Homo sapiens: one gene and its partners. The protein of the gene in region 4 purifies or fractionates together with the protein of the main gene of each other region. This does not show direct contact. Each region holds a gene or a part of one and is shown on either strand. Other genes may lie near its edges.

Evidence for each region.
Region 1: the proteins of MBNL1 (region 4) and HRG purify together in Homo sapiens (affinity purification with mass spectrometry; one large-scale study listed by BioGRID and IntAct). This does not show direct contact.
Region 2: the proteins of MBNL1 (region 4) and ATL3 purify together in Homo sapiens (affinity purification with mass spectrometry; one large-scale study listed by BioGRID and IntAct). This does not show direct contact.
Region 3: the proteins of MBNL1 (region 4) and ENDOU purify together in Homo sapiens (affinity purification with mass spectrometry; one large-scale study listed by BioGRID and IntAct). This does not show direct contact.
Region 5: the proteins of MBNL1 (region 4) and DSC2 purify together in Homo sapiens (affinity purification with mass spectrometry; one large-scale study listed by BioGRID and IntAct). This does not show direct contact.
Region 6: the proteins of MBNL1 (region 4) and ESD purify together in Homo sapiens (affinity purification with mass spectrometry; one large-scale study listed by BioGRID and IntAct). This does not show direct contact.
Region 7: the proteins of MBNL1 (region 4) and OXSR1 purify together in Homo sapiens (affinity purification with mass spectrometry; one large-scale study listed by BioGRID and IntAct). This does not show direct contact.

What each region holds. Positions count from the first base shown.
Region 1 is NC_000003.12:186,675,688-186,679,321, reverse strand, and holds the end of HRG (histidine-rich glycoprotein precursor), read right to left. Parts: intron 2,300-3,634; coding exon of another isoform or gene 2,276-2,299; coding exon 1,439-2,275; 3' UTR 1,088-1,438; downstream 1-1,087. UniProt on the Homo sapiens protein: Plasma glycoprotein that binds a number of ligands such as heme, heparin, heparan sulfate, thrombospondin, plasminogen, and divalent metal ions. Binds heparin and heparin/glycosaminoglycans in a zinc-dependent manner.
Region 2 is NC_000011.10:63,664,555-63,668,967, reverse strand, and holds part of ATL3 (atlastin-3), read left to right. Parts: intron 1-4,413. UniProt on the Homo sapiens protein: Atlastin-3 (ATL3) is a membrane-anchored GTPase that mediates the GTP-dependent fusion of endoplasmic reticulum (ER) membranes, maintaining the continuous ER network. It facilitates the formation of three-way junctions where ER tubules intersect.
Region 3 is NC_000012.12:47,715,164-47,719,576, reverse strand, and holds part of ENDOU (uridylate-specific endoribonuclease isoform 1 precursor), read left to right. Parts: intron 1-304; exon of another isoform or gene 305-430; intron 431-1,382; coding exon 1,383-1,448; intron 1,449-1,921; coding exon 1,922-2,059; intron 2,060-2,518; coding exon 2,519-2,687; intron 2,688-3,077; coding exon 3,078-3,277; intron 3,278-4,413. UniProt on the Homo sapiens protein: Endoribonuclease that cleaves single-stranded RNAs at 5' of uridylates and releases a product with a 2',3'-cyclic phosphate at the 3'-end. The UU and GU sites are more efficiently cleaved than CU and AU sites. Targets mRNAs to regulate their expression.
Region 4 is NC_000003.12:152,271,929-152,275,428, forward strand, and holds part of MBNL1 (muscleblind-like protein 1), read left to right. Parts: intron 1-3,500. UniProt on the Homo sapiens protein: Mediates pre-mRNA alternative splicing regulation. Acts either as activator or repressor of splicing on specific pre-mRNA targets. Inhibits cardiac troponin-T (TNNT2) pre-mRNA exon inclusion but induces insulin receptor (IR) pre-mRNA exon inclusion in muscle.
Region 5 is NC_000018.10:31,081,632-31,086,044, reverse strand, and holds part of DSC2 (desmocollin-2 isoform Dsc2a preproprotein), read left to right. Parts: intron 1-2,984; coding exon 2,985-3,119; intron 3,120-3,621; coding exon 3,622-3,807; intron 3,808-4,413. UniProt on the Homo sapiens protein: A component of desmosome cell-cell junctions which are required for positive regulation of cellular adhesion.
Region 6 is NC_000013.11:46,776,363-46,780,775, forward strand, and holds part of ESD (S-formylglutathione hydrolase), read right to left. Parts: intron 3,672-4,413; coding exon 3,573-3,671; intron 1,262-3,572; coding exon 1,094-1,261; intron 1-1,093.
Region 7 is NC_000003.12:38,227,436-38,231,848, forward strand, and holds part of OXSR1 (serine/threonine-protein kinase OSR1), read left to right. Parts: intron 1-2,251; coding exon 2,252-2,300; intron 2,301-2,929; coding exon 2,930-2,995; intron 2,996-4,413. UniProt on the Homo sapiens protein: Effector serine/threonine-protein kinase component of the WNK-SPAK/OSR1 kinase cascade, which is involved in various processes, such as ion transport, response to hypertonic stress and blood pressure.

The DNA of each region.
Region 1 (3,634 bases), about 34 Mb from region 4:
TTCTGGTCTGATTGGTCAGTGCTTGGGTCATGTTGATTATGAAATACTTTGAGTATCACTATTGCAGTTGGAAGATAGACAGAATCTGAATTCTTTTAGTTTGTTTCAAATGATTGAGTCCTGATTTGAGGAGGAAAAAGAAAGAGGAGTATAGTGTGGAAAAAGTCTTCTGGCCCTAAAAATAAATAAAGTGAACTTACCTGAGACTAGCAAGAGAGTCGTTAGCTGAGGGAGAAGGTATAGGGAGAAGAGTGAGGTAAGGGGTCTCTGAGGCAGAGGAGATCTCTGCCCTGCTTTCTGGGCATGCAGCTGGGAAGACAGCAAGATCCCAGGGAGAGAGCAGCCATATGCCATACCTTGGCAGTCATGTCCATGGCTAGTGTACAGACATTCCTGCACCCCCAGTTTTCTACAGAAGTAGCAGATAAATCAGACTGAAAGAGTGATGTGAACAGGGTTGTGACTATCCCTGAGCAGGATGGCTATCACTCATGATGATGATCATTGGTCCAACAGTCACCCTGGCTGAGGGATAGTCACTATCCTGCTTCCTACCACCTGGACAGCTTGGCATGGTGTGAGATCCTAGAACTGTGGCCCAACTTTGTGTGGAAAGTAGCAGGGCAGGGAAAGGGGACTCCAAGAAGGACTGGGGTTAAATTTCCACTAAGCCAGTAGGATGGCATCCTCAAATAGAAATTAATTTGTTCTGAGCATAAAGTGACATTTCTTATGCACCTGAATTTATGGTCATGATTCATGTTAGCAAGCTTCTTTGCAATTTATAGCCAGAGGTTTGTTTGCTTCAATACTGAATTTAGAACTTATTTTTCCAAAAGAAAATTTAGATGCCTAGTAATAATCACGAGGAGAGAATTTAGGTCACTTTAATAATAATAAATAGGGGGAGGGTGGGAAGCAGGAGAGCATTCGGAAAAAGAACTAGAGCATGCTGGGCTTAATACCTAGGTGATGGGTTGATAGGTGCAGCAAAGCACCATGGCATGCTTTTACCTATATAACAAACCTGCACACCCTGCACATGTGCCCTGGAACTTAGAAAATAAAATGAAATAAATGATAACAATAGTTTCAATACCATACTTTATTAGTATGCCCAGGTATAGCCCAAGCAGTAACAGAGACTCTAGAATTAGAGTTAAGTCCAGGAAAGAAGGAGATTCTGAGTGGCATAGATTTGTCTCAAGTGATGTAGTGGTGAGTGACAGAATTAACTACTAATAGGCAGCACTGAGTTCTTTCCTCTCCTTTCCATTTGATCTCTCTTCTCAGGCCATCTCTTTTCCCATTCACATTTTGCTGCATCTTCAGTATGAAAGTAGGTTGAAAAGAACTGTAATTTTCACAATTACTGGTCATTTTATTTATGTTTCTAATTCAATGTATTATTCATTTTCCTCTTCAAAGGAATCACATTTTATTTTGGAAATGTATGTGTAAAAAACATGGAAACTTGTGGAAACCCACTCTTGAACTTCCCTGGACATGATTCAGAGACTGATTGAGGAAAGGGCTGATTGTCTGGCTTTAGAGGATGTTTGTGGTGCGGCAATGGGAAGCTGGGAAAATTGGCCTCAGGAAGTGGCAGCACCTCACCTTTTCTTAGAGGAGGGAGTCGGTACACAGATCCAATTTGTCTGCAATGGAAGGGACGGGGTCCTTTACCTGGGCCTCGCCTTCTTAAGTGCCCAGGTGGTGGGCCGTGGCCATGGCAACAGTGACCTTGGTTATGGGGTGGTGGGTCACAAGGTCCATAGTCTTGGAAATCATGGCAGTGGGGATGGTGTCCATGGGGATGGTGTCCATGGGGGTGGTGTCCATGAGGATGGTGTCCATGGGGGTGGTGTCCATGGGGATGCTGTCTATGGGTATCATGTTCATGAGGATGGTGTGCATGGGGATGGTGTCCGTGGGGATGCTGTTCATGGGAATGATGCTTATGGGGATGGAGGTCACTGGAATTATTATTATGAGAATGTCTTTGGGCCCCATTTGTGCCAAAAGTGGCATGTTGACAACTTGAGCAGGACATGGGCAATAGTGGAGGAGGGCCTTGTGGAAGTGGGGGTCCATGTGAGTGATCTCTTTCATCTGGAGGAGGTGGGGGTCCATGTTCGTGTGGCTTGTGGGGATGATGATGATCTCTAGATCCATGGGGCTTGAATGGAGGCTTGGTGGTAGAAGAACGCTCATGCCCACCCCAGTGGAAGGGATGTCCCAAATGAGGCGGTACACCATTGATGTTCTCATGTTCCTGGAAAAGGTCACAGAAAAGTGCCTATCATCATGTAACATAAAAGAAGATGTTAGATACTTGACTTGATTTACACCAATGGCTCCCAGATCATAGATTCCACAAATCAATTTAAAAAGTATTACGAAAAAAGATTCTCAAATTGTTATCTAGCCCAGTTGATATTTAAAATATTAACAATAACTATCATTTACCACCATCATTGTTTCACAAAAGAAACTATTTTTTTTTTCTGAGACTGAGTCTCGCTCTGTCACCCAGTCTGGAGTGCAGTGGTGCGATCTCTGCTCATTGCAACATCCACCTCTCAGGTTCAAGCAATTCTCCTGCCTCAGCCTCCCAAGTAGCTGGGACTACACGCCCAAGCCACCATGCCCACCTAATTTTTTTTTTTCTTTTTTTGAGACATAGTCTTACTCTGTTGCCCAGACTCCTAATTTTTGTATTTTTAGTAGAGACAGGTTTCACCATGTTGAACTCCTTGTTTCAAGTAATCCACCCATCTCAGCTTCCCAAAGTGCTGGGATTACAGGCATGAGCCACCATGCCCAGCCTGGAATGAAATTTTGATTTAAAAAAAAAAGAAAGAGCCAGAAACACAATATCAGAGTAAAGGATTGTCCTTTAGATGGATAAATGTTAGATATAAAAAACTTCATTATCCTTATTTTTTTTTCATTTTTACTACACAGAGTGGTGAAACAATATTATGACCTGGCACCCATCTGTAGACCAACACTGGAAAACTAGTGCCTTATAACTGATATTCTTAACTGAGGCTTGATGGTATCAACATCCCTTACTCCTAAAGGCTGAACACTTGACCTCTTCTCTCTCTTCCTTGTTCAGAGTTTAATTTTTTAAAAAATAGCTACAGAGGCCGGGCACGGTGGCTCATGTCTGTAATCCCAGAACTTTGGGAGGCTGAGGCAGGTGGATCACCTAAGGTCAGGAGTTTGAGACCAACCTGACCAACATGGAGAAACCCCTTCTCTACTAAAAATGCAAAATTAGCCAGGTATGGTGGCGCATGCCTGTAATCCTAGCTACTCAGGAGGCTGAGGCAGGAGAATCGCTTGAACCCAGGAGGCAGAGGTTGTGGTGAGCCGAGATGGCACCATTGTATTCCAGCCTGGGCAATAAGAGCAAAACTCCTTCTCAAAAAAAAAAAAAAAAAAAAAGACAGAGCCATGTTCATGGTGACAATCCTGCCCTTTGTTCCTTTTTCTTTTTTTTAACTTGGGATTGGATGTTTGGATTATTTTAAGTTTTGTTTCTGATATGAAAAATTTCGTGAAGCAAATCTTTGTACTCATGTAAAAAATAGACCAAAGATTTCTGAGACAGATGCAAAATATG
Region 2 (4,413 bases), on a different chromosome or scaffold from region 4:
CTGTAGTTCTGGCTACTCAGGAGGCTGAGGTGAGAGGATGGAGTGAGCCCAGGAAGTTGGCTGCAGTGAGCCTTTTTTTTTTTCTTTTTTCTGCAGTGAGCCTTGTTCTTGCCACTGCACTCCAGCCTAGGCAACAGAGTGAGACCTTGTCTCAAAAAAAAAAAAAAAAAAAAAAAAGGAACACAGCTAATTCAAACCTTTGGTGGCATTCTTATTCTTAGGAAAGAGATACAAAAGTGTTACTGAGCTCATTCCATTAAAAAGGTTTTTTTCCTCCACTTGTGATATAGCCTGGCATCATTTTCAGATTCAGCCCTCTCCTTGGATTTTCTGAATCTTCAGTACCATTTAGTCATAGATAATTTTTGTAAACCTATGAAGCATTACACAATCCTTAGTCAACAACAAAAAATATGGTTTTGTTCAGCCTTCTGTGCTATGGCGAAAAGATTTTCTACAACAGACAAATATAAAATTTGCCCAGTATTCTGGTTAATTAGATTTAAATAGTATTTTCACTGAAACAGCCTTAAGCGTATTGCAGTGTATCTACTGGCACAATCACTGCCTTAAGACAAAACGGTATATAAAAGCACCCACCCCTCCACCACCAGAAGGAACCACACCCAGCAGTTCTAGAGTTGGCTAAGGTCTTAGTATACTTACTCTTGCCTGTGATGATGTTTTCTCTGGCTTTGTCAGTTAGAAACCTTAAAGACTGCCAGCAAGAACAAGGCATGAAAATGGTATGCCTCTGTTTTGGGTGTGTTGCTCTTGCCCTTTGGAGAATATGATATTTTATAAGGAGACTGGAAAACTCAGGTCATAACTTTACCCTGAGTCATACATGAATCTACTCAGCAAAGTGTTTCTGTGACTGGTTGGTTACTTTGTATTCAGAACTCTTTGAATGGTAAGGATAAACACCAAGGCTGACTCTACTCAGTGGTTCTTAACCTATGGTAATATTGCCTCTTCCTGCCCCTGGAGCATTTAGCAATGACTGGAGACGTTTTTTGGGTGTTAGAACCTGTTGTGGGGAGTGTTACTGGTATCTAGTGGGTAGAGGCCAGGGATGCTGCTCAATAGCCTGTAGTGCGTAGGATAGCCCCCCACAACAGTTGTGCAGCTCCAATGTCAATATGTCAGTAGTGCTGAGGTTGAGAAACCCTAGTCTACACTGTCATTTTTTTTTTTTTTTTTTGATACAGAGTCTCGCTCTGTCACCCAGGCTGGAGTGCAATGGCGCGATCTCAGCTCACTGCAGCCTCCATCTCCCAAGTTCAAGTGATTCTCCTGCTTCAGCCTCCCGAGTAGCTGGGACTGCAGTCATGCACCACCACGCCTGGCCAATTTTTTTGAATTTTCAGTAGAGTCAGGGTTCCACTATATCGGTCAGGCTGGTCTCAAACTCTTGGCTGCAAATGATCCATCCGCCTTGGCCTCCCAAAGTGGTGGGATTACAGGCGTGAGCCATTGCACCCGGCCCACTTCTCAGGAATCCTAAACTCTTGGGAGGCTGAGGTGGGAGAATCACTTGAACCTGGGAGGTGGAGGTTGCAGTGAGCAGGAATGACGCCACTGCTCACCAGCCTGGGCGACAGAGCAAGAATCTGTCTCAAAAAAAAAAAAATGCTTTCTAATTATACAAAGATTTTCAACATTTTCTACATACTTGAACTGATGAGTGATAGAATATTATCATGAGCTATTTACAGCAATGAAGTAGTCCCCATTATCTGAGGGGCATATATTGTAAGGCCCCCAGTGGATGCCTGAAACTGCTGATAGCACTGAGCCCTGTATACACTACGTTGATCAGTGAGAAGGCTACTAAATAACTAATGGGCATGGTAGCATATACAGTGTGGATACTCTGGAAAAGGGAATGATTCATGTCCCAGGCAGGATAGCACAAGATTTCATCATGGTACTAAGAACTGCGTTGCAATCTTAAGACTTACGAATTGTTTATTTCTGGAATTTTAAACATATGTTGTAAATTCACATAAATACATATGAATGATAGATGTAACAGTGGTCCAGCTGTAGCTTTGTGTCTGTGCAAAAACATCACGTTATCCATATTCATGTAAGTAATGTAATACAGCATTAACTGTTGTTGCAGTATGCAGAATTAGACCTTGGAAAATAATTGCTTCTCTAAAGGGACAAGGCATGTAAAGTTGCCACTTACAGATATTTTTAGTACCCTCCCCGGAGACTAGATCTCCAGAGTTTAAGATTCCTGACAAGTGGACCGGGCACGGTGGCTCATGCCTGTAATCCCAGCACTTTGAGAGTCTGAGGTGGATAGATCACTTGATCGCACGGTGTGCGATCCACCCCCCTCGGCCTCCCAAAGTGCTGGGATTACATGCATGAGCCACCACACCCAGTTAGCACTTGACCCATTTTAGTGATGAAACTGAAAACTAGACATGCCCAGGATCACACAGGTTGTTAGTGGCAGGGCTGGAACAGGAACTTGTGTTTTGAGTCCTAAATTTGTATATTTCCACAGGTTACTTCTGAGAGTAAGCAGGTGAATCTGTCCCTTAGGCAGTTGTACATTTAGACTAAATGCAAGTTAGAGATCTGTGAAGTTGTATCATCCAAATAGAGGGTAGGCCGGGCGCGGTGGCTCACGCCTGTAATCCCAGTACTTGGGGAGGCTGAGGCGGGTGGATCACCTGAGGTCAGGAGTTCGAGACCAGCCTGGCCAAGGTGGTGAAACGCCACCTCTACTAAAAATACAAAAATTAGGCGTGGTGGTGGGTACCTGTAATCCCAGCTACTTAGGAGGCTGAGGCAGGAGAATTGCTTGAACCCAGGAGGCAGAGGTTGCAGTGAGATGATACTGGGAGGCTGAGGTGGGAGGATTGCCTGAGCCCGGTAGGTTGAGGCTGCAGTGAACCATGATTGCACCACCGCACCTCTAGCCTGTGCAACAGAGTGAGACCCAGTCTTAAAAAAGGTGTAATATATAAGCAGCTCCATTTAACTTGCATTATTGGTGTGTACAGCTCAAAATAATTCTTCCCTTACATAAGCCCAAACCCAAGGATCACTGTCAGTGAACAACATCTTTTTTTTTTTTTGAGACAGGGTCTTGCTCTGTTGTCCTGATTGTAGTGCAGTGGTTGACTTACTGCAACCTCTGCCTCCCAGGTTCAAGTGATACCAAGTAGCTGGGATTACAGGCGCGTTACCACCAAGCCTGGTTAATTTTCATATTTTTAGTAGAGATGGGGTTTCGCCGTGTTGCCCAGGCTGGTCTCGAACTCCTGATCTCAGGTGATCTGCCTGCCTCAACCTCCCAAAAGTGCTAGGATTATAGGCGAGACCTCCCATGCCTGGCCAACAAGATCTTTTTTAATCTGGTGGGTGTTGATAATCATGCTTATATTACTGGTGTGAAGAGAAATGCAGAATCACCCCAGCTCTTCCAACTAAACAGAGCCTGGTTCCCTTCCTTTATTCTTGGGTACCGTGCTACAGGGAGAGGAAGAGATGAGTAAGGACTTTTCCCCCATAGCTGTCCTCAGTAGTCTTCAGCTTCTCTTGAAGTGCAGTTCACTGTACACAACTGTATACATTCTTCTTTTTTTTTTTTTTTTTTGAGATGGAGTCTCACTCTGTCACCCAGGCTGGAGTGCAATGGCTTAATCTCAGCTCACCGCAACCTCCGCCTCCCGGGGTTCAAGCGATTCTCCTGCCTCAGCCTCCCGAGTAGCTGGGATTACAGGCATGTGCCACCACGCCCAGCTAATTTTGTATTTTTAGTAGAGACAGAGTTTCTCCATGTTGGTCAGGGTGGTCTTGAACTCCTGACTTCAGGTGATCCACCCACCTTGGCCTTCCAGTGTTGGGATTGACAGGCATGAGCCCCCATGCCCAGTCTCAACTGTATACATTCTTATCATTGGATTACCCCATCTTGTAACCACGTAACTTTATCTTCCATGTCTACTGCTCTGACAATGCCACTTGGATCCTTTGGGTTGTAGCCTTCAACCACATTATGGTACATGTCATTCATTCATTTTACAATAGTTTATTGGCCGGGTGCGGTGGCTCACGCCTGTAATCCCAGCACTTTGGGAGGCTGAGGCAGGTGGATCACAGGGTTAGGAGTTCGAGACCAGCCTGGCCAATATGGTGAAACCTTCTATCTACTAAAAATACAAAAATTAGCCGGGCATGGAGGTGCATGCCTGTGGTCCCAGCTGCTCGGGAGTCGCTTGAACCCGGGAGGCGGAGGTTGCGCTGAGCCAAGATCGCGCCACTGCACTCCAGCCTGGGCAACAGAGCGAGACTCCGTCTCAAAAAAAAAAAACAAAAAAACAATAGCTTATTGTATGTGCTGTGTGTCATTACATTGATATTGCTCATTACATTCACATTGCTCAG
Region 3 (4,413 bases), on a different chromosome or scaffold from region 4:
TGAGACTTATTCACTATCACGAGAACCAGCACAGGAAAAACCCGTCCCCATGATTCAGTTACCTCTCACCAGGTCCCTCCCGTGACACATGGGAATTATGTGAGCTACCATTCAAGATGAGATTTGAGGGGGGACACAGCCAAACCATATCACCATATAAGCATATGTATTATACATTAGCACCACATATATATTAGCACACACACATACACCTCCTTCCCCAGGCAGGGAGACCCAGGCCGAGATCAGCCGGAATCAGAGCCTATGCCTTTTCTGCTGTCCTTGTGTCCCCACTTTTTCTTACCATTCAGAAAACACAGGAAGGCTTGTTCACCTTGGACCATCAGGCTGGCATTCAAGATAAAGGCAATACCCAGCGTAGTAGCCATTTCATCTTCAAGTTTCTGATTTGCAACTCAGAACCCCTTTCCTATAGAAAAACATATTGGAAATGATGGTTAGGATTCCAGCTCAGCACACAAAATTCTGTTTAGCATAAAATGTGGCTGAATTCAGAACTCCATGGATTGCCAGCACTTAGAACACAACCTGACACATAGTAAGTGATCAGAAGATGTTTGTTGACTGAAGAATAACCTAACTGGTAGTTCTGATGGTAATAACTTTCCAGCAAACTCACTAGTAGATTCTGAATCACTTTGTAACAGTACTGTTTGTTGGGTGTGTGGAGGGGGTGCTGGTGGGGGGATTATTCCACTGTGTGATGAGAGAGGAACTCAGAGTCCCCAGGAACATTTCTCCCCCCTGCATCACCCCCAACCTCAAATCCACCCTTCTCCACCCAGAGCTGAGCTACAGTCACTCAGCTTGCAGGTGAAGGGAAAGGGGCAGCAATAGGAATGTGCTTTTCTGAACATGCCTTTTCCCTAGACACAGTCTTTGTGGCCATTTCCAAGTGGGGCAAAGAAAGAAGGGAAGTTGGAATCTCAGGAAACAGCTCTTATTCCTTGAGGCCCTGAGAGTTTACCCTGAGCTCTGACGAGAAGTTTTTCTAGGTACAGGATGTTCCTAAGTGAGGGCTTTGTCATTAGGACAGCATCAAGCCTCTATCCATCTGTCAACTTTTGTTAAATCAGAGTTTTCATCACCGAAGTCAGAGTTTTCAATCCAGATGTGTCACCTGGGGAAATTATTTTCCTTTTTTATAAGTTTTCTATAATGTGTCTTCCATTGGAAACATCTTCCATTTTCTGTTTTCATCATCATTATTTGGTGCCTGTCCATTGGACCCCAGCCCCTGTTCAGAATTTGCTTCCAGTGCCCTTGCTTGTCCCCTGAGGCTGGGGAAACAGAGAACCAGAAACCAAGCAGCAGGGGAATTCTCAGGTTGTTGGTGACTTTATTTTTCTATCTACCTGCAGAGGACCACAAAGAGTCAGAGCCATTGCCACAGCTGGAGGAAGAGACAGAAGAGGCCCTCGCCAGCAGTGAGCCTGCCTCCCCAAAGGGGGGCCCTCAAGATAAAGCAGGAGGGACATGAGGGTGACAAGCAGGGGCGGCCATGGCAGTGGCACCAGGCCCAGGCCTCAGCCAGATGAGAGAGGCTTGTTGGATTCTGGGAACCTGGGCAGGAAGAAGCCTGGGGGGGCTCAGCCAGCCTGGGGGGCCATGGGAGGAGGGTAGCTAGGAAAGAGAGCCTGAGGCCTGGAGAGGGAAGTGGAAGAGATTTTATTTTTAGAATGAGAAGATTAGAAAAACAGCAGGCCAGAAAGTAAAGTTCGGCATCAGAAAGGACTTCCTGACTGTGAAGGGTGTGCACGAATTAGGTTTGTTTGTTTTCCTTCCCTGGAGATCTTTACTGGGCAGAGTGAAGACAGCCAGGCTAGGGAGCGACAGCCTGTGGGGCGTTCAGAGCGACCTCTAGAGGTCAGCCCGGGACACACCACCCCTCTCTTCTCAGACTTGTACTCGGCACCCACCTCCTGCCAGGGCCGCTGCTACGAAGCCTTTGACAAGCACCACCAATGTCACTGCAATGCCCGCTGCCAAGAGTTTGGGAACTGCTGCAAGGATTTTGAGAGCCTGTGTAGTGACCACGGTTAGTCTTCTGCTCCCTTAGCTAAGCTGCAGAGACAGAAGGACTTTAGAGCAGGTTCTCAACATGTGGTCCCTGGACCAGCAGCTTCAGCAATGTCTGAGAACTTGTTAGAAACACAAACTCTGGGGCTTCACTCCGGGCCTACTTAATTAGAAACTCTAGGGATGGGACTCACTGTCCTGTACTACCAGGGCCTCCAGGTGGTTCTGATGCATGCTCAAGCGTGAGACCCCTTCTAGGGGGAAGGGGCGGGGGACATTCTGTGGGCAATGCCGTGTGGTGATTTTACACGTCCTTTAGGCTCTGGGCCCCTGTCCACCACTAGGGTGTCCAACTGTGGCCCCCCTCCCTCCTTGCTGGCTTCTTGAAGGTGCCCAGGAGGGGAGGTACACAGATAATTTCCTGCCCGCCCCCCTTTCCCTCTGGCTCTGAGGCCACCCCTCTTCCAATTCCTCCCAGAGGTCTCCCACAGCAGTGATGCCATAACAAAAGAGGAGATTCAGAGCATCTCTGAGAAGATCTACAGGGCAGACACCAACAAAGCCCAGAAGGAAGACATCGTTCTCAATAGCCAAAACTGCATCTCCCCGTCAGAGACCAGAAACCAAGTGGATCGCTGCCCAAAGCCGTGAGTTCCCACAATTCCTCTTTCTACCCCCTAAATCTTGCCCCTATCCTTGCTTCTTTCGATGTCTCGACTTTTTATCCTCAAGTCAGGCACGATCAAAGGGAGAGCAGAAAAAAAATAGTTCTCCAGAGACAAAGCCATCTTGAGGGACTGTGGATATCCAGTTGGGAGGGTTTCTGTGATTGGCCAGGCTGAGGATAGAACAGCTCTTCCAAAACATGAGGTGGAAGAAAAGTGACCTGATGTGTGACTTTCAAGAGTACCCGAAGTGCCCCCTCGGCTCCTGAACCCAGCCCTCGCCTGTCTGCCCCTGGCCTGTCTAGAAGTCTCTGGAGGGGTCGCTGCCCTGTGTTTGGGGCTCTCAGTGGGGCTCCCCTCTGCCTCCCCCAGACTCTTCACTTATGTCAATGAGAAGCTGTTCTCCAAGCCCACCTATGCAGCCTTCATCAACCTCCTCAACAACTACCAGCGGGCAACAGGCCATGGGGAGCACTTCAGTGCCCAGGAGCTGGCCGAGCAGGACGCCTTCCTCAGAGAGATCATGAAGACAGCAGTCATGAAGGAGCTCTACAGCTTCCTCCATCACCAGAGTGAGTGAGCACCCCCAGGCCCCAGAGCGCATGAGTCTGTCTGAGCGAAGCCAGGTGGGCGGGGGAGGGGAAGGTTAGGAGGGCAGGTGAGGAGGCGGTGGGGACTCTGTGGAGGTCAGTGTACATCTGGGAGGGATGAGGGATGAGGCCAGGGGGAAGCCAAGGAGAGGTTAGGAACCCAACCAGGAGCTGGCACATCCTCTGGCTGGCTGGCTTGGATATCACCCCACCTTTGACTTCATGTTAACTGCCTCATGCACGCCCACCCTCTGCTACAGTCTCAGGGTTCTCTGCCAGGTGTGAGCCTCCCCTCACATCCCACCCCCACCCAGAGCACGTCTCAGCCACCTCCGCGATCCTGGAGTCAGCACCATGTTTCAGACAGGTAGAGTCGCTGACTCTACTCCCTCCTCCCGCAATAAAGTCCAGGAATCGGGTTGGCTGAGTCCACCTTTTGGCTGGGGAAACAACATCAGAGAATCAACAAAGGTTCAGAGCGGGAAGTCCTATCGGGAAGAGTTGTGGTTGGAAAGCCTCCAGGTAGAGACACATTTGAGTCAGACCAAAAAAGATTTTGGCCGCAGGACTTCTTGGCATGGAGTTGTGTTTGTTACTGTCCTGCAGATTCCTTTCCCAACTCCAGGCAGCTGGGCTTTGTCTCAGGGGTGGCTCTGTCCGGGTCTTCCCTCGTTGTCCCTGAGAGTGCCTTGGCTCAGAGCTGCTGCCTCCCTTAAGAGTTGGTGACACTGTTTTTAGGTAAAGTGACAGCGACACAAGAGTGACTCTATGAAGAAGTTGCAATCCTGTGCTGCCCCCTGGCGTTCTCTTCGTAGTAAATACACAAGAGAATCTTGGAGGTCTAGACTGAGCAAGGGCTTTTCAAATGAGAGAAACGGAGGCCAGACAGGCTAGACTTATCTGAGGCCACAAATGAGTTGGAAGCGGAGCTGGGGCTGGAACTCAGGGTTCCGATGCCAAGGCCAGGCTGTCCCGTTACTAACTCTCTCCTCACCTCTCTCCTTGTCCAAATCCCACTTATCCTTAAAGTTCTATGATAATTCATATCCCACCGCATTTGTGAAGGCTGCACCTGCCCCAGCTCACTCTGGCTTTCGGCACCTCTGCAGAGTTTGGAG
Region 4 (3,500 bases):
AAAGTAAAACATCTGATTAATATTTTTATATTTATGATATGTTTTAATGATAATTTTTGATATATTGGTTCTAATAGAAGATCTTACTAGATTAACTTCACCTGTTTCTTTTCTCTCTCTCTCTCTCTCTCTCTCTCTCTCTTTCATGGTGTCTAGAAAATATAACAAATGTGGCTAACATCGTATTTATTTTGGACAGTGTTGTTCTAGGATAAAGCAGGAAAACAATATTCTGGGAGAAAGCTTAAAGATTTTGCTGGTCAAAACAATAAAATTGGCTTATTTTATTATACATAGAAATACCTCGTCTTTCTTATCCATTGTAACCAAAATTTGAGAAAACACACCACCTAACATCTATTTTTATTTCCTCAAAGCTGCTATTTAGTTTAGAGATTTGATGGTGAGGTAGTAATAATAGAGAAAAACTTATAATTAGAGAATGAGTCTTAACACCTCTCAAAGGCCAAAATAGAGTATGATTGTTACTTAGGAACATTTTAGAGACACTGTAGTTATCATTGTCCTGAAGTTACCAAACATAAACGAGTCACTAAAATTATTTTAAAATAGAGATTTTAGTAAATAGCAATTATCTTCAAATACTTAATATGTGTTTTCTTTTGCTAGAACTTTCTTTAGAAAGTTAAAAAAAAAAACCCATATCCAAAGTCCTGAGCAAATGTTAATAAAAGATTGCTGCATTCATAAGAATGAAAGATTTTTACCTGCAGATAGGAGGGTATTGTTTTGAATATTAGCAAAGGTGAAAATGTGTTTCTAACGTAACATTATGGGCTCTGAAGAATTTCTATACATGGAGACACTGTCTTTATAATTTGAACACATTCTTGAGAAGGCATCTGACTGGTAAACAAAGCACAATGGCATAGGTCCTGGAAACATTCCTTTCAGATATTTTCATAACTGAAGTACATTTTGCCATTCACAGTGAGTGTTAAGCTGAAAAAAATGTGGTTCTTTTCTAGCCATATAAAGTATGCTTACTATTATTTTCTCGAAGGATGCCAAAAAATGTAAAATGGATGTTGTGGATTCTTCGTGGGGAGGTTAGCTAGTTTGTATATAGAGCCTCAAGAAGAGTTGCCTCAGCTTGGTGCCATCTTGAGTCTGTCTTCCACTAGATGAGGCATAGCTTCCATTAGTGTCAGTGCGTGTGTGGAGGGTGAGGGGAAGAATGATCCCCATTAACTTTGTATATTGTTTCTGATGAGTCATGGAGCATATTCACTAATGGTTGGAGAATTATTGATTGCAAGGCAGAGGATTCAAGAAGAGCTATTGGCATATGGCATTAACTGTCTCTAGACATATTTTTTATTTTTAAATTTGAGGTAGAGAAATCGGTTTTTACGTAGTGTTTTTCATATTATAAAAAATAAACGTTTATATAAGCATTACAGATACATCCTTGAGGAAAAAAATAGTAAATACATGGTTATAGTTTTCTACATATTACCAGTTTTTTTCATAACAGATCCAGAACATCTCTTTCAGATAATCGTTCATGTTTTTAGAGAGGCATCTCATCATATGTGCCTGTGAAATCTGTAAAAATATGTGTAACACACATCTTGAAATATTTGTGTTAGGAGAATTAAGTCTTACACATTTGGTTCTTTTTCTACTGTTTTTGATTATGTTCTCTAGGTTACTATGATTATCTTTTGTTAAAACAGTTCAGGAAATATTAATCTCAAAACGAAATGTAGCCATATTGGACAGAGTAGAGAATTGCTTTTCCACAGAGACCAGTTATTCCAAAAAGGTGAAGATGTTTCTGAAATAATATCATGCTCATATGCTCCAAAAGAAAAACCATCATCTCTTTTGACATTCTTTTAGGAAACTGAGAGATGTATGTTTTATATACCAAAAGAGGTGAATAATAGTTGATAAAGGTATGCAAAATACATACTCCTGTGAAGTGTGAACATACAATTTGTATGTAACGCATGCATGAGCATATAACTTTCCCCAAGACAATGCCAATTTATTCAAATCACCTGAATGTTAAATAATATCATACTATTAAGAAGAATTGTGGTAAATATGAAATCTAAATACCAGTGATGATGTCCATGCTGATGTCAACTCCATTCCAGTCCTGCTTTAGCTAAATTCACAAAATGAAGAGATGTCTTTCTCCAAAGTAGTTTTCCAAAAATTTGTATTTGACACTGGATTTTTTCCTACGTTTTCACTTTTAAAAGTTTAGAAGCTATTAACTAAAAATGAACTTGTTTTAGAGAGCTAAGAAGATTCTAGATTTATGGGGACATTTAGTTCTATGAAATAAGCATTACGTTGCTGACTTGAAATATTATTCTATCATATAAAGTTGATTTATAAGTGAATACATATTGTGAAAAAATACCACAGTAGACTTAGTGAAATCTACCAAACTTAATCAAGATAGATATACGTTGTCCTCAAAAAAATAAGAATCTGGTAGGGAAAATAAGAGCTTCGAAAATAACTATAAAGTAGAAAGTGATATTTAATAAACAATGGCTGGGTAACATGGTATGAAAGTTCAGATAAGGGAAAGTCTTAAGATAACTCTGACTTGACCCACATACATGTAATAAAGGGAACAGTCCTTAAATGCATAAATAATGGGAACAAAAGGTATTCAGTATTTTTCAGCCTTAGCAAAATATTATTCTGTTAACGCAGTATTCTATTCAGCAATGGTTCCATATTTTCCATATGTTTATAGATAACATTCAGATATCGAATTTTCATATATGTTTTAATTCATTTATTTATTTCTTTTATCTAGGAGAAATATAATGGTTTCCAAATGTCCTATACTAGATTATTGATAGATTTTGTCATTAGTTTTACTATTGAATACCATGAAATATCAGCTGTTGCAGCCACTAAATAGTTACAAACTGTTGGTACTACAGTTTACTAGTCAATCCATGGTTATATGCTTGTGCTATGCTAAATATAAAGGATTCAAGATGAGGACTTAAGCAGTTCATATTTGTATTTAGAATATTATCAAAGATATTTTCTTAACTTGTCTCAGTATTAGAATTTACAGCCCATTTTCAGCTTATTGTATCCAGAAATTTCAATCATATCCAATAATTTATCAGCATTTGTTGATGACAGTAAAAGTGACACATTAGCATTTTATTTGTTTCTGTGTTGTTTGATTACAACAGTGACATTTTAGCACTCTTTGTGGACGGATAACTCTTCTAGTAGAAAGAAAGCAGGAGGGTGGTCAAGCTAAGTGACAGATACAAAGAGTTGGAGGACATAGGGCTTTCTGTGGGTAAGAAATGGATGAGAAAAGCTTTATGTCACTGACTAGGCTTGCAATTCAGTATTCCCCTATCAAAGGCCCCCTTACTGATGTTTCTGTTTACCAGATCTTGGTTTCAAGATGCCAGGTTCTGAAGAGATACACCACGAGTTCTTATAAACACTATATCTAAATTTGGTTTGAAAGTCTAATGTTT
Region 5 (4,413 bases), on a different chromosome or scaffold from region 4:
TCTATTAATCATTTTCTATTGTCACCTTGGAGTCATGGTCTCCAAATTGTATTTGATGTCTCTTGGCCCCCCTGAATCACATCACTTCCTAAAGCATGTTTTTACCTCCAAGATTGTTTTAAATCTATATTCTGTCTCTTTCTACTGCAATACCCTAGCTTAGTAATTCATTCACTTAGTTATTCAACTATTACCTCCTCCCTGAAGCATTATTCATCTAAATTCTTATAGCAGTTTCTGTGTCCTTATTTACTATATTTATAATCCTTAATCTTAAAATATAGTAATAGATGTTTATCAGGTATTTTATTTGATTCTTAAGTCTTAAATCTTCAGATTAATTTTCTCTTCCTTCCTCTATCCCTCATGGATTAGGGTAGAGGTTCTCAAAAGCTTTGGTCTCAAGACCAATGCTTGACATTATTACATATTGTTAAATATTGTTGAATACTGTTAACAGTGTTAAATATTGTTGAAAATCCCAAAGATCTTTTATTTATCTAGGTTATATTTATCTATGTTACTTGTTAATGTTTAAAACTAAGGAAAGTTTAAATTATATATTAATTTAAATATTAAAAATAATAAATTAATTACATGTTAACAGTTAAAATTCTTATAAAATAACAGTAAAAATTGTTACACTTTTTCTTCTTTTTGTACTTACAAAATAAGTACATTTTCCAAAACAGTACAATTTAGTGGGAAGAATGACATTGTTATGCATTTTTCCAAATGTTTTTAGTATTTTGCTTAAGACAGGTGGATTCTCATATCTCCTTCTGCATTTAGTCTGTTACAATATGTAGTTTTAGCTGAAGCATATATAAAGGCAATCTGACATGATATAAAATTAGAAAAGAGAGTAGTATTTTGATGATAATTACAGATCACTGTGGATATTATTCCTTGATACTACATGAATACTTGATAAGGAGTAGCTTGTTTCCTAAATGTTTTTGGTAATGTGGACTCTGAATCCTCAACAATGACCTTTTGTACTTTATTACGTTAAAATCCATTGCTCTATCTTACACTTTGAGTGACCATTTTACCAGTACATCATTCTATATTGTGCATTGGTCATTTGGAAAATATTGGTTCACCAAGTAATGCAGAGCTTCCAAATATTGACACATTGCATTAAATAATATCAAAAAGATCACCTCTTTACTTCCATTGATATCACATTGGTTGATAAAGGTTTTCCAAGCTTCTCATTTTTGTTTGAAATCTCCAATTTATCATTGGCAACAAATAGTTGTTTTCCCTGAAGTGACAGATTAACTTTATGTTTTACAAAATACTTTCATAAAACTATAGTCTGCATAGCCATAGATGTCTATGTGAAAATAGCATTCTATGGAAAAAAAAAAAAAGCAAAAACTCAACAGCTTGTTCAGCTCCTAAATCAAACAATCACAGAAGTGCTTTTCTTTGAATAGATTCTTCTGAAATAATCAGTTGAAAACACTTGTCCAGTGAAGGTGTTTATCCAGTGGTGCTCTCTAGTAACTTTTTGACCTCAGGATTCCGGTTTTCTTCAGTTGCCTACAACCTTTTAGTCCCTTTAAACATCAGAATTTCTCTTCCATCTGAAGATAGCATAAGTTAATACTTAGGGTATCAAACTTCATTTCCTTGTTTCATTAGCCAGTTAATTATTTCCAATAAATTTTAGTTCACTACAAACAAAATATGTATTCCTTCTTGAAAGTACAGTAGCATGATGTTTTAAAATTTTTCAGTTGAAATAAGGCCATTATTTTTCAAGTCTACACATGTGATTGGTTATGAGGGAGGAGTAAATCTGGAAAATTATGTGTGTTAAAAGCAGGAAGATCAAGAGAAACTTTAGTTTTATTTTAGATAATGCCTAAGGAAAAGAAAGTTTCAGAGATGATGGAATTAAGGGAAGAATCTTTGTAAGAGAAGGGTGAACATTCTAGGTAGAAGATGAGGATAGATTTTAACATGCTATTTTGTCTTATGAAAAGAGATAAATTAGGTAGGAAAGGTAAGCATCACCATCTTATAGAAGAAGAAACCTAGACAAAGTGAATTTTCCAATTGCCCAAGATTGTGTCTCTTATTTTTGGAGTTGGAAATAGAACCCAAGTCTCCTAATGCTCAGTCCGGAAAGCATTATTACTGTATTGTTTTTAATTCTCCCATATCTCAATCACTTATGATAAATGAAAGTTATAAGGAGAAACACTTTAAAATATTTAAATGCTTCAGATGTTTAAAAATATTTTTTAAGGTAGTGATGAGTTTTCAACAATATCTGATAAATTGAAAGCCTTAAGAGCCAGATTCTATTTTCCACAGAAAGAAAAAAACCTACATAGCCCCAGACCTTTATCTTCATGTCAGTTTAGATGATCTCTTAAATGTAACATAAACCCTTAAAATCTATATTTTTTGCAGGAAGAAATTTCATTTTATTGTTTTGTTAAAAGACTATTTTAAGAGTCATTGCTGTCTATTTTTTTGAACATAAGAATGTACTTTGGCTAGGAGATAAAGGTTTTGATTAATTACCAGGCAATTTTAAATGCACTTGTGGCAAATAGCTCTTCTTTTTCTGTTGAATAAAGACAAAACCAATTGAATCTATATTCTGTAAGTTAATAGCACTATAAATTTGAGAAACTATTCAATTTTCATAAATTGATTAAAAATTCCTAGTGTGATTCTCCTGCCTCGCTTGAACCCGGGAGGCAGAGGTTGCAGTGAGCCAAGATCACACCACTGCACTCCAGCCTGGGCAACAGAGCGAGACTTCGTCTCAGAAAAGAAAAAGAAAGAAAAGAAAAGAAAAATTACTAGTGAGAGAAAATTCTTCTAATACACGAATGCTGTGAAATGTAATAATGCACTTCTTAAATTCTTAGTGCAAAAAAATTATGGAGTGTAAAGTAAGATTTCAATTATAATGTTGGTGCTTTCCCCCAATAATTAAATTCTTTTTTTGTTTTCAGTTAATTGACAAGTACCAGTTGAAAATAAAAGTACAAGACATGGATGGTCAGTATTTTGGTCTACAGACAACTTCAACTTGTATCATTAACATTGATGATGTAAATGACCACTTGCCAACATTTACTCGTACTTCTGTAAGTGTATGATATTAATTAAAGAAAAATGTATAGACCAGTTTTAATTGTTTAATATGCACATCTCTGGCCTGGCGCAGTGGCTCACGCCTGTAATCTCAGCACTTTGGGAGGCCGAGGCGGGCGGATCACCTGAGGTCAGGAGTTTGAGAACAGCCTGGCCAACATGGTGAAATCCCGTCTCTACAGAAAATACAAAAATTAGCCGGGCATGGTGACAGGCACCTGTAATCCCATCTACTCGGGAAGCTGAGGCAGGAGAATCGCCTGAACGTGGAAGGCAGAGGTTGCAGTGAAGGAAAAGAAAAAAATGCACATCCCCATCCACCCCTCATGATTTCAAATGAAGTGCCCCAGTGACATTAAAAGTTGTATAGTGCTAGGGTTTCAAATCATGTAAACATAGTACTTTGGAAATTAGAAGAGTAGGATTTACTTCACATCGTGTTCAATTTTTGTGAGAGTTACTAACGAAATTTTTTGTTTGCTTTTATTATTTTAGTATGTGACATCAGTGGAAGAAAATACAGTTGATGTGGAAATCTTACGAGTTACTGTTGAGGATAAGGACTTAGTGAATACTGCTAACTGGAGAGCTAATTATACCATTTTAAAGGGCAATGAAAATGGCAATTTTAAAATTGTAACAGATGCCAAAACCAATGAAGGAGTTCTTTGTGTAGTTAAGGTAAGAATAAATTAGAACATTATTTGTAGTTTATAATATCATAGAATAGCATGCTAGAATTTAATGGAAAGAAAGGAATTCTGATAAATGTAGAATAAAATAGGTATATAAGTAAATGCAAATGCTCTGTTCTTCATATACAATGGAAAGAATATATTAGTTTTTGATAATCTTTTGTTTAGGTATTTTTTTTTTTAAAAAGTCCATATAATACAATATCTATTTTGTAACCAATATCTTTAAATGGTTCAAAAACTAGCACAGCTTTGATGCCCCTGGGACAGTGCCAGACTTTTCCTAGCCCAGTTTTTCTGTGTTTGGGTCAAGGAGCCTTTATTTACTTACTGAATTTCCCAAATCAAGAGTTACTCTTGGTCAGCCCCATGGAGAGGTTATTCATAGGTTTGTTCATCATATTCAGTATATATTACATCCTTAGCATCCAGGTTCAGAATGAAAATCCTCAGTGATTCAACAATGCAAACACTTCTAAAACTTCTTTCTAATACTATTTCAGCAGCCAGAGTTAGTGCATAAAGCAATCTGAGCTCCTTTAGCCTTGGACAAATTTATAGACTTATTTCTGCTGCATCTTTAACCAGAACA
Region 6 (4,413 bases), on a different chromosome or scaffold from region 4:
GCACAATTTCTCCTTGTGCTAGCTCTAATTCCATTCCTTTGCTCCTCAGGAGAATATCATGCCGTCTGAAAATGGCTTGATAAATGACAGGAGGTCAGTATTTGCAGTTAAATGGCCTTAGTTCCAGTTCTGGTTCCACCACTTACTAGCTATGTGGCCTTAGATAAGTAGGTTACTTCTCTGAGCCTGTCTCCTCATTTGTAAAACAGATGGATAGGAAAGAAATGATATCTCATTTGGCGGTATAAGAATTAACAATGAGTTAATGCTGTGAAAGCATTTTACAAACTAATGTACCACATTACACACTGATCTAGATTTGAACATTTACCATCGTAATTACATTTTAGATCAATGTGCCTGACACATTATCCTTAAACATGGATAAAAATTTATTTAAAAATCATGACCATGTATAATTTTCAGTGCTCATTTTTCACTCTAAAATATTTTAAATTATATTCTGAAGCTTATGAATTTTTCTTAAAAATAAAAGCAGAACTTCCTTAATTAGGACTATGGTAGCATATATAGAGTTAGGTGAGTAGTGGACGGTCAAAAATATTTTAGTTAAAAAAAACTTGCAAGCCCATTGGGATTCAGTAATTATTCTTAAACAACTAGAAATATCAAGTAGCACAATGAATAGATTAATATGAAAGTCAAATAATATAAAGCACATGTGTGATAAATAATACTTAACTTCTGAGGCTAAAATATATACATAAAATAAGGAGTAATTTAGGTAGAAGTTTGTCCTTTTTATTCTACTGCAGCAAAGGTCCATGTGTAAAGAAAGAAGTATCTGCTAATGCTGAAGATTAATCATCATTCAAGCATTAAAAATCTTGTTATTTACTGGTTTGATGGAAAACAATATTTTTCACTGCCAAAAGCTTTCCTATTTCTATCAAATTTAGTGTTAGATATAATTAATTTTATAGGCAGGTTTTCACTTCAAGTGTCTGAATATAATTAAAAACTTACTAGAAGTAGCATTTTATATTCTAAAATAAAGTTAAGAAAATATCACAGAATCCTAATTTTTCATAGTTACATTATCTAGATCAAGCTAAAGTTTCCTAATACTTGCCTCTTGCAATCGAAAAACAACGGGGATTTTCTTTTCTGTACAGGCAGCTATGAAGTTATCAGGGAGTAACTGTCCATCTAAAAGAAACTGGTCATCTTTCCCTTGATCAATTAGTATGTCCAGCTGAGATCCTGGATAGGATTTCACAAGGTGGGTAGCATCATAAGCCTGTAAAAAGAGAAGTAACATTGAAAAATAAATTCAAAGATACTCTTCAGGATATACTATACTAGTACCAAACAGAAATTTAAAGTTATTTAAGCTCTTAGGCTGATTAAATCAGAAATATGCTTTTAAGTTGGTTCAAAATCTGACTTGCCAGGCTTTTATTTACAAGGTCTTCGGAATTCTATTTTCTAATAATAGTCTCTTCCCTACTTTCAAGCAGTCCTAGACTAGTGGCAAGAATCCCATATCTCAGGGATTCTTAAGAAAATGGCCTTTTTCCTTCTAAACCTTTAATATTCTTAATCTCCTCTTGGCTCCAGCAAGAACATGATTTTTTTTCCTTTGTAACTCCTTCCACAAATTGGAAACTAGAAGCTTCTTCTAACTCCATGATCTTTTTCCAAATATTCTCTATTTCAGATAATCTTTTTTTTTATGTCTCTTCTTTATGGCTGTAATTCCAGACATAAACACATTCAGCCTTCTTTTTTGCTGTTGAACAGCACCAAACCTCTGCTATCTACATAAGCTTTCAGAAACACCTGGTGTGAATCATCTGAATCATATCAACATCATCTCAAATTTATTCTCTGAGGAGCTGCCACTAGTTACAATTTTATGTTTTATCATCCACCTCGAAATATTCTTATTCATATATATTCATTAACCACAACTTTATACATTGACCAAGACAAACAACCACGAAAAGATTTGTCCTCTAAGTATCCTGCTTTTGAAGGTTCTATTTCCTTTCATCTTAGAGTGGGAGAGGACCTATAAAGTCTGACTAGTTAGTTCTAAATTCTATGATTTCATAATTCTACATGGTTTCCTGATTTCAATCGTAAATTAAATAATACCCTAAATACAACATAATTAAGACAGTAAAATCTACTGTCACTTGGAGAAAAGTACATATCTAGATTCCTTTTTAGGTTACCTGTACCTCTACCTCTCACCTTCACCCTCCAATTAGTTGGTCTTTTACCCAATTCTTCTATTAGACCATAAGCCCCTGGTGGATGTGAAAGGGTCACCATTTTCGTGACAAAACAGCTCAGAACCTAGCATAGACTTTGCACCAGATGAAGACTCAAAACACTGATGTACATGCAATGTCAGTTCTCAAAGGACCTAATCCTAAATCATTTCTAGCATTCTTCAAACATAGTAAAAATTCAAGCCTAAACAAAACTGTAATCTAGTTACTAAAGGATGAACCCTTTAATTAGTTAGAATTTCAGTAATCATCCTTAAATAAAATGTGTTGGAATTTCAATAATCATCCTTACATAAAATAGGGGTTCATGTAGGAATGAACCCTGAACACAGAACTATACTTTAAATACTTTAAGACAAAGAAGTTGCATTTTTTACCCATTCAAGTATTTTCTGCTTGTTAACAATACACATCATGATGAGTTCATTTGCAAAGTATTCAAACTCTTGGCAGAGTTTGTAAATGGCCCATTTCTGCACAAGAGTAACATGGCTCTCAGGAAAAAGGGTCATTTTTATTTCCACTTGAAAGCACCTGTTTGCATGCTTGAAAAAGCAATCTTGCTGTGGGAATATTCACATAAATGTACATAACAGAATATCTATTTTTAAAGACTCGTGTCTGGAATTTAAAATCGAGATCTGAAATGCTAAATTTTGAAAACAAAGTAATTTAAAAAGCCAGGCTTCTTTGCTTCTATTACACAACTGAGCACATAGTTAATAAGAGGCAAGTCTAAATTTAGTAACACAGGTTGAACATCCCTAATCCAAAAATCCAAAATCAGAAATGCTCCAAAATCTGAAACGTTTTGAGTACCCACATGACGCTTAAAGGTAATGCTCCAAGGAAATACCCATTGTAGCATTTTGAATTTTTAGATTAGGGATGCTCAACCTGTAATATATGGTATTTTTAGATTAGGGATGCTCAACCTGTAATATGTGGTATTTTTTGGTTAATTTAGAAGTGATGTTAATTTAGAAATAAAAATATAAATTAACCATTAGTAGAAAAAAAATATAGCCCCAGAATATCTGCCATGATTCAATACAATTAGAAAGTAGGGTTTTTTGTTGATTTATATATATATATATATAAAATAATATATATAATAATATATATAAAATAATATATATAATAATATATATCTCATATATTGATATATATATCGATATATATATATCTTTTGCTAATTTGTCTCAGCTCTAGAGCCCTAACATGAGCAGGGTAGGAATATAATATATGTCCAACCTTTTAAACAAACTTGAAACTTAAGAATGAGTATTAAGACAGCCATTCAGTACCTACCTTCCATTTACTTTGATCTGTTCCCAAATATCCACTAAAGGCTTTTTTGCCCCAGGGACAGAGTACAGGGTTGCAAATTGGAGCAAATGCTGACACAGACTTCAGAAACAAAAGAAATTTAAAAACAAGTTATATTTTGCTAAATTAAATATGAATAGATATTTGCAACTTACTTAAAAATATAGAAGTTACTTGCAACTTGCTTAAAAATTCTGACTTGCCATGAAAACCCTGTGAACAATTTTCCTTTTGATATATTGCTGGCTTAGATTGCAGGCCTTTCCATAATACATCTTTTGTGTATTCTATTAAGAGAGCTAATAAGTATAGTTGCTAAAATAATGCAAAACAATACATTGCAATTTAAGATACAAACAGAAGTCTATGTTCAGCGTTTCTGCTTTTTTAGCACTGAAAATTAATCTATAGTGATATAAAACAGTTCATGCTTACCTTAGTGAACATGTTACTAAATCTGACACATTTCTCTTAAACAGTACCAACAAAGCAGTGAGCAATGCATTTCAATATGACAGAATTTTTAATACAACTCTGTGTTCTATACAATGTTCTTTTTCACTGGATGAGATGCAGAGATGGGATCTCTCAACTTCAGAGTACTCATCAATGTAAATGTTTAGTGGTATCTACTAGCTTTTTTAAAGGACAAAAAAATCAACTAAGTTTGCTTTTCTACCTCAGACATGATAGACTGCCTTAAAAAATGGAAATAAAAGTGCTTACTTAGAAAGCCCACTGTCAGGCCATGAATTAATAAAACTTGATAATAAAGCGTACCAAAAACAAAATATTTGATGCCACAGAAAGAAACTGTTATGAG
Region 7 (4,413 bases), about 110 Mb from region 4:
GGAAATTGCTCAGAATGTGGCACAGAAAGATCAAAGAGGGAATATGAAAGAAATATTAACATTTGGAGGGTAGACTGAGAAGGTTCAGTATGTTTGTGTGTATGCACATCCACACACACACACACACACACACACACACACACACACACACAAATGTACGTATACATATACATGAACTTACCAGGAAAGACTAGAGAGAGTATAGGAGAAGCGATATTCAAAGAAATAATGGCTGAGAATTTTCGAGAGTTGATGAAAGACCTATATTCTCAGAGTAAAGAACCATCCCCCCAGAATTCCAAGCAGTGTCCCCCTTCTTCCACTTGTACAAGTTGCTGTGAAACTACTGGACACGAAGCAAAGACAAACTCCTACAGGCAACCTCGGGGAACAGATTACCTACTGAGGATTAGCAGGTAGACTTGACAGCTACTTCCCCAATAACACAACAGTTGAGGCCAGCGTTTAGTGAAATGCTCAGAGAAAATGCAGTCATGTGTCACTTAAAATGATGAGGATACATTCTGTAATATGTGTATTAGGCAGTTTTGTCATTGTTTGAACATCGTGGAGTGTACTTACACAAACTTTGATGGTACAGCCTACTGCATGCCTAGGCTATTTAGTGTAGCCTGTTGCTCTGACTACTGTCAGATACACAGTATATTGTTGGCCAAAGCATTAAGAGGCTCATGACTGTGACTTTAACCCAGAGTTCTCCAGCTAGTCAGACTATCATTCAAGAATGAGCATGAAATTATTTTGCACACAGAAATTGAGTTTTCCAGTCACGTTCTGTCACTTAAAGAACCCATAAGTTGTACTTTAGAAAGAAGGAAATGAAGTCAGAAGAAAGGAATGAATAATAAGAAGCAATGTTGAGCAATCACATTGTTGAGCATATTGAGAAGCAATTGTTGAGCATATGAAAAAATAAGAGTGATAATGTAGGATTTCAGTTTGCATAGCACTTTCACATTTATTCAGCTTTTTAATCTTTATAATAATCATCTGAGGTGCTGGTTCTTAAACTTGAATGCCTATTGGAATTACCTGGGGAGTTTTAAACATTACTAAAGCCAATTAAAGATTCTGCTTTAATTGGTTTGAGGTACAGCCTGGTCATTGGTTTTGTTTGTTCGTTTGTTTGTTTTTGAGACAGTCTTGCTTTGTCGCCCAGGCTGGAGTACAGTGGCACAATCTTGGCTCACTGCAACCTCCGCCTCATGGGTTCAAGCAATTCTCCTGCCTCAGCCTCCCAAGTAGCTGGGACTACAGGCGCACGCCACCATGCCCTGCTAATTTTTGTGGTTTTTTTAGCAGAGACTGGGTGTCACCATATTGGCCAGGCTGGTCTTGAACTCCTGATATCGTGATCCACCCACTTTGGCCTCCCAAAGTTCTGGGATTACAAGCATGAGCCATGGTGCCCTCTGGTCATTGGGATTTTTACATTCTTCCCAGATAGTTCAATGCACAGCAGTGTTTAAGAACTTAGGGGCTTGGCCAAGTAATACTGAACCTTAGAGAGGTTGTGATTTGCTCAGGATCAGGTAGGTGTGTGGCAAAATCAGGTCCAGTCTCTTAAATGTTAAATTCTTTATTCTGAATGATACTCTTTTAAAAGCTTGTAAAATTGACAGTCGTGTCTTTACTTAAAAGGAAATAAGACCATGAAGAAATGAGTTAAACACTGAGTTTTGTTAAATTTGGGGAATATACTTTTAGAATTTTCATTTTTAAAGGGAGATTGTGAAATCTGTTTTTAGGGATCTGTGGTTACCTAAATTGAAGGCTGGCAGGCTACCATGTGGCAAGAAGTGGAGGTCTTGATTTGGTCCATTTCCTCTTTGTGTGTTTAAATATATTTTTATGCCTTGCTAAAAATGTTAGATAGATATTTTCTAGCTTACTTATTGGGAAATAATATTAAATATTAAATTAATATTATTAAATAGCAAATATATTAGACTCTATTAAGAAATCATGCTTCCAGAAAAAACATTTCACTAATGATTTTTTCAAAGAATCTACAATAATTATCAGAATATTTGTTTTGAGTTTTTTATTTTATTCAATGTCCTGTATCAAGTTTATTTTACTTTTGCTTTTTAGCAGTTTAAGGAAAGTAGAGTATACTGAGTTTTTATTTTGCTGTTGAAAAAAATTTTTTCTCATTTTTGATGATGGAATCTGACATTACACTTGAATTAATTATAAAAACTTTTCTTCCCTCCCTTCCTGGTTTTAGACCAACAGCAGCAGAACTATTAAGGCACAAATTTTTCCAGAAAGCAAAGGTAGGAAATTCCAGCTTTTGATTATGTGTGTTCATAGGATGCTCCTCAATTACTCAGATTATGTTCAGTGCTTAGAAGTTGGATGATTATGTTTGGAAAAATGATGGTAGATAAAATAATTGCAGAAAGCACTATGTATACAGTCTTTGATAATTAAGATAATTGCTTCAGAATTTAGTAAATCCGTTTTTAAATATTAGGTTAAACTGATCATAGGAACAATGATTATTAAATTTTGCCATTATAAATATAATTTGTGAAAAATACCGAACTCTGGTTTTAAGGTTTACTACTGAATTTGTAAACATCTCATTTCCCAAATATATCAGATAGTAGGATGTTACTGTAGTTGGAAATGTAGGACCATGATCTCAAAGAACATACAGTACAGCAAACTCTTCATAGACAGTGGTTCATACAGTGTACTACATCTTAATTTTCTGCCTCAATTTATGAAACTGTGGTAGTAACATACTAAAGGAGCTTCAGAGTGAAAGAATGAAAGTTTTTCTCACACTTCATTACAGAACAGTTACTATATCACATTTTGATTATGGTGAACTTTTTTGTGGGTTTTTTTTGGTACCTTAAAAACTTGTAAGAACAAAATACTTACTTTTCCTCTCCAGAATAAAGAATTTCTTCAAGAAAAAACATTGCAGAGAGCACCAACCATTTCTGAAAGAGCAAAAAAGGTAAATCAGAATTTAACTCAGTTTTCCTGAAGAATTTACTTTATTTTTGCATTTTGAAAACATGTTAAGTAATACATTGTTAATAGTATATGAGAATTACTGGTTTTCTGTCGATCCTTTCTAAAGCATTCTTTGATACATTCATTCAGCAAATATCTTTGGTCTACCATATGCCTTGGTATTACTCTGCTATCTTTTAGGATGAAAAGGGATGCTAGACAGTAATTGGTAAATTAATTCTAAACTCTGTTTGATAACTGTTTCCAGCTACCAGAGTGAGTTGTGATTTTACATGACATTTATAGCTTTGGGTATAAGTCACAGTACCCTCTTTGGAACTCCAAATTTTCTACTGCCTTTACAGAAAGACTGAAAGAACTTTATTACGCATATGTAATTTCTAAGAAGTTTGGTCATGATGTGAGCATACAGAATGCTTTAATATCTCAGTTTGGGCAGAATATATTAATCTTCCTGTCCATGATACTTTTATGAACCTCTGTGAGAGCAGGGAGAAGAAAATCCTCCCTTTTCCTCACTCTTACTTCTCTGCTCAAGCAGACTTATCCAATGTGAAGGAAAGGAGGCAGTTTGGGCTTCTGCTGATGATAGACTTGAAGAAGGTAAAGGTCTTACACCTTGTATAATATAGTGGTAGGCCTGTCCAAGAAGTTAGAAGCATTATGTCTAGCAGTGGCTTATTCTCTTCCGTAGATCTCACTGCTTGGGAATTTTGATACATTCCAAGAATTTAACACAATGAAGAACCAGAAATGTATATTAAATACTTGGAAATGATATTCTTAATAAGCACTGGTAAAACAGTTAACTTGTCTCTATTTTAGAGATATATCTTTTTCAGTGGCTATAATGCATCGTTACATATCAGAATCACTTGGGGACTTAAAAAAAAAAAGAAAGAAACATGGACAATGTCATCCCAAACCAATTAAAGTCATGACTCTAGTGGATGAGACCTGGACAATTATTCTCATGGATAGCTACTAGGTTAAAAACTCACTTGGCTCATTCCTTCACTTTATGTCAAGTCTACTCAATTGGCCTTTCCTCAGAATAATATTCTCTGATTACTAAAACAGTACCCTCCCATGACTCTCTATCCCTTTACCCTACTTATCACCATCTGACATTTTACAGTGTTTCTTTACCATTAGAATAACAGCTTAATGAGAACAGGGACTTTTTTTCATTGCTGTATCTTCAGTGTGCCTAGAATAGTTCCTGACACACAGGATATTCTTAAATAATATGTATATATTTTTATGCTTATTAATAATATGTATAAAATTTCTATGCTTATTATTGTTTATAATAAATCCCATCTGAGATACGTGTTGATTTATATCTGAAATCTGATTAATTTAAGAAGAGTAAGTTGGGTGCAGTGGCTCATGCCT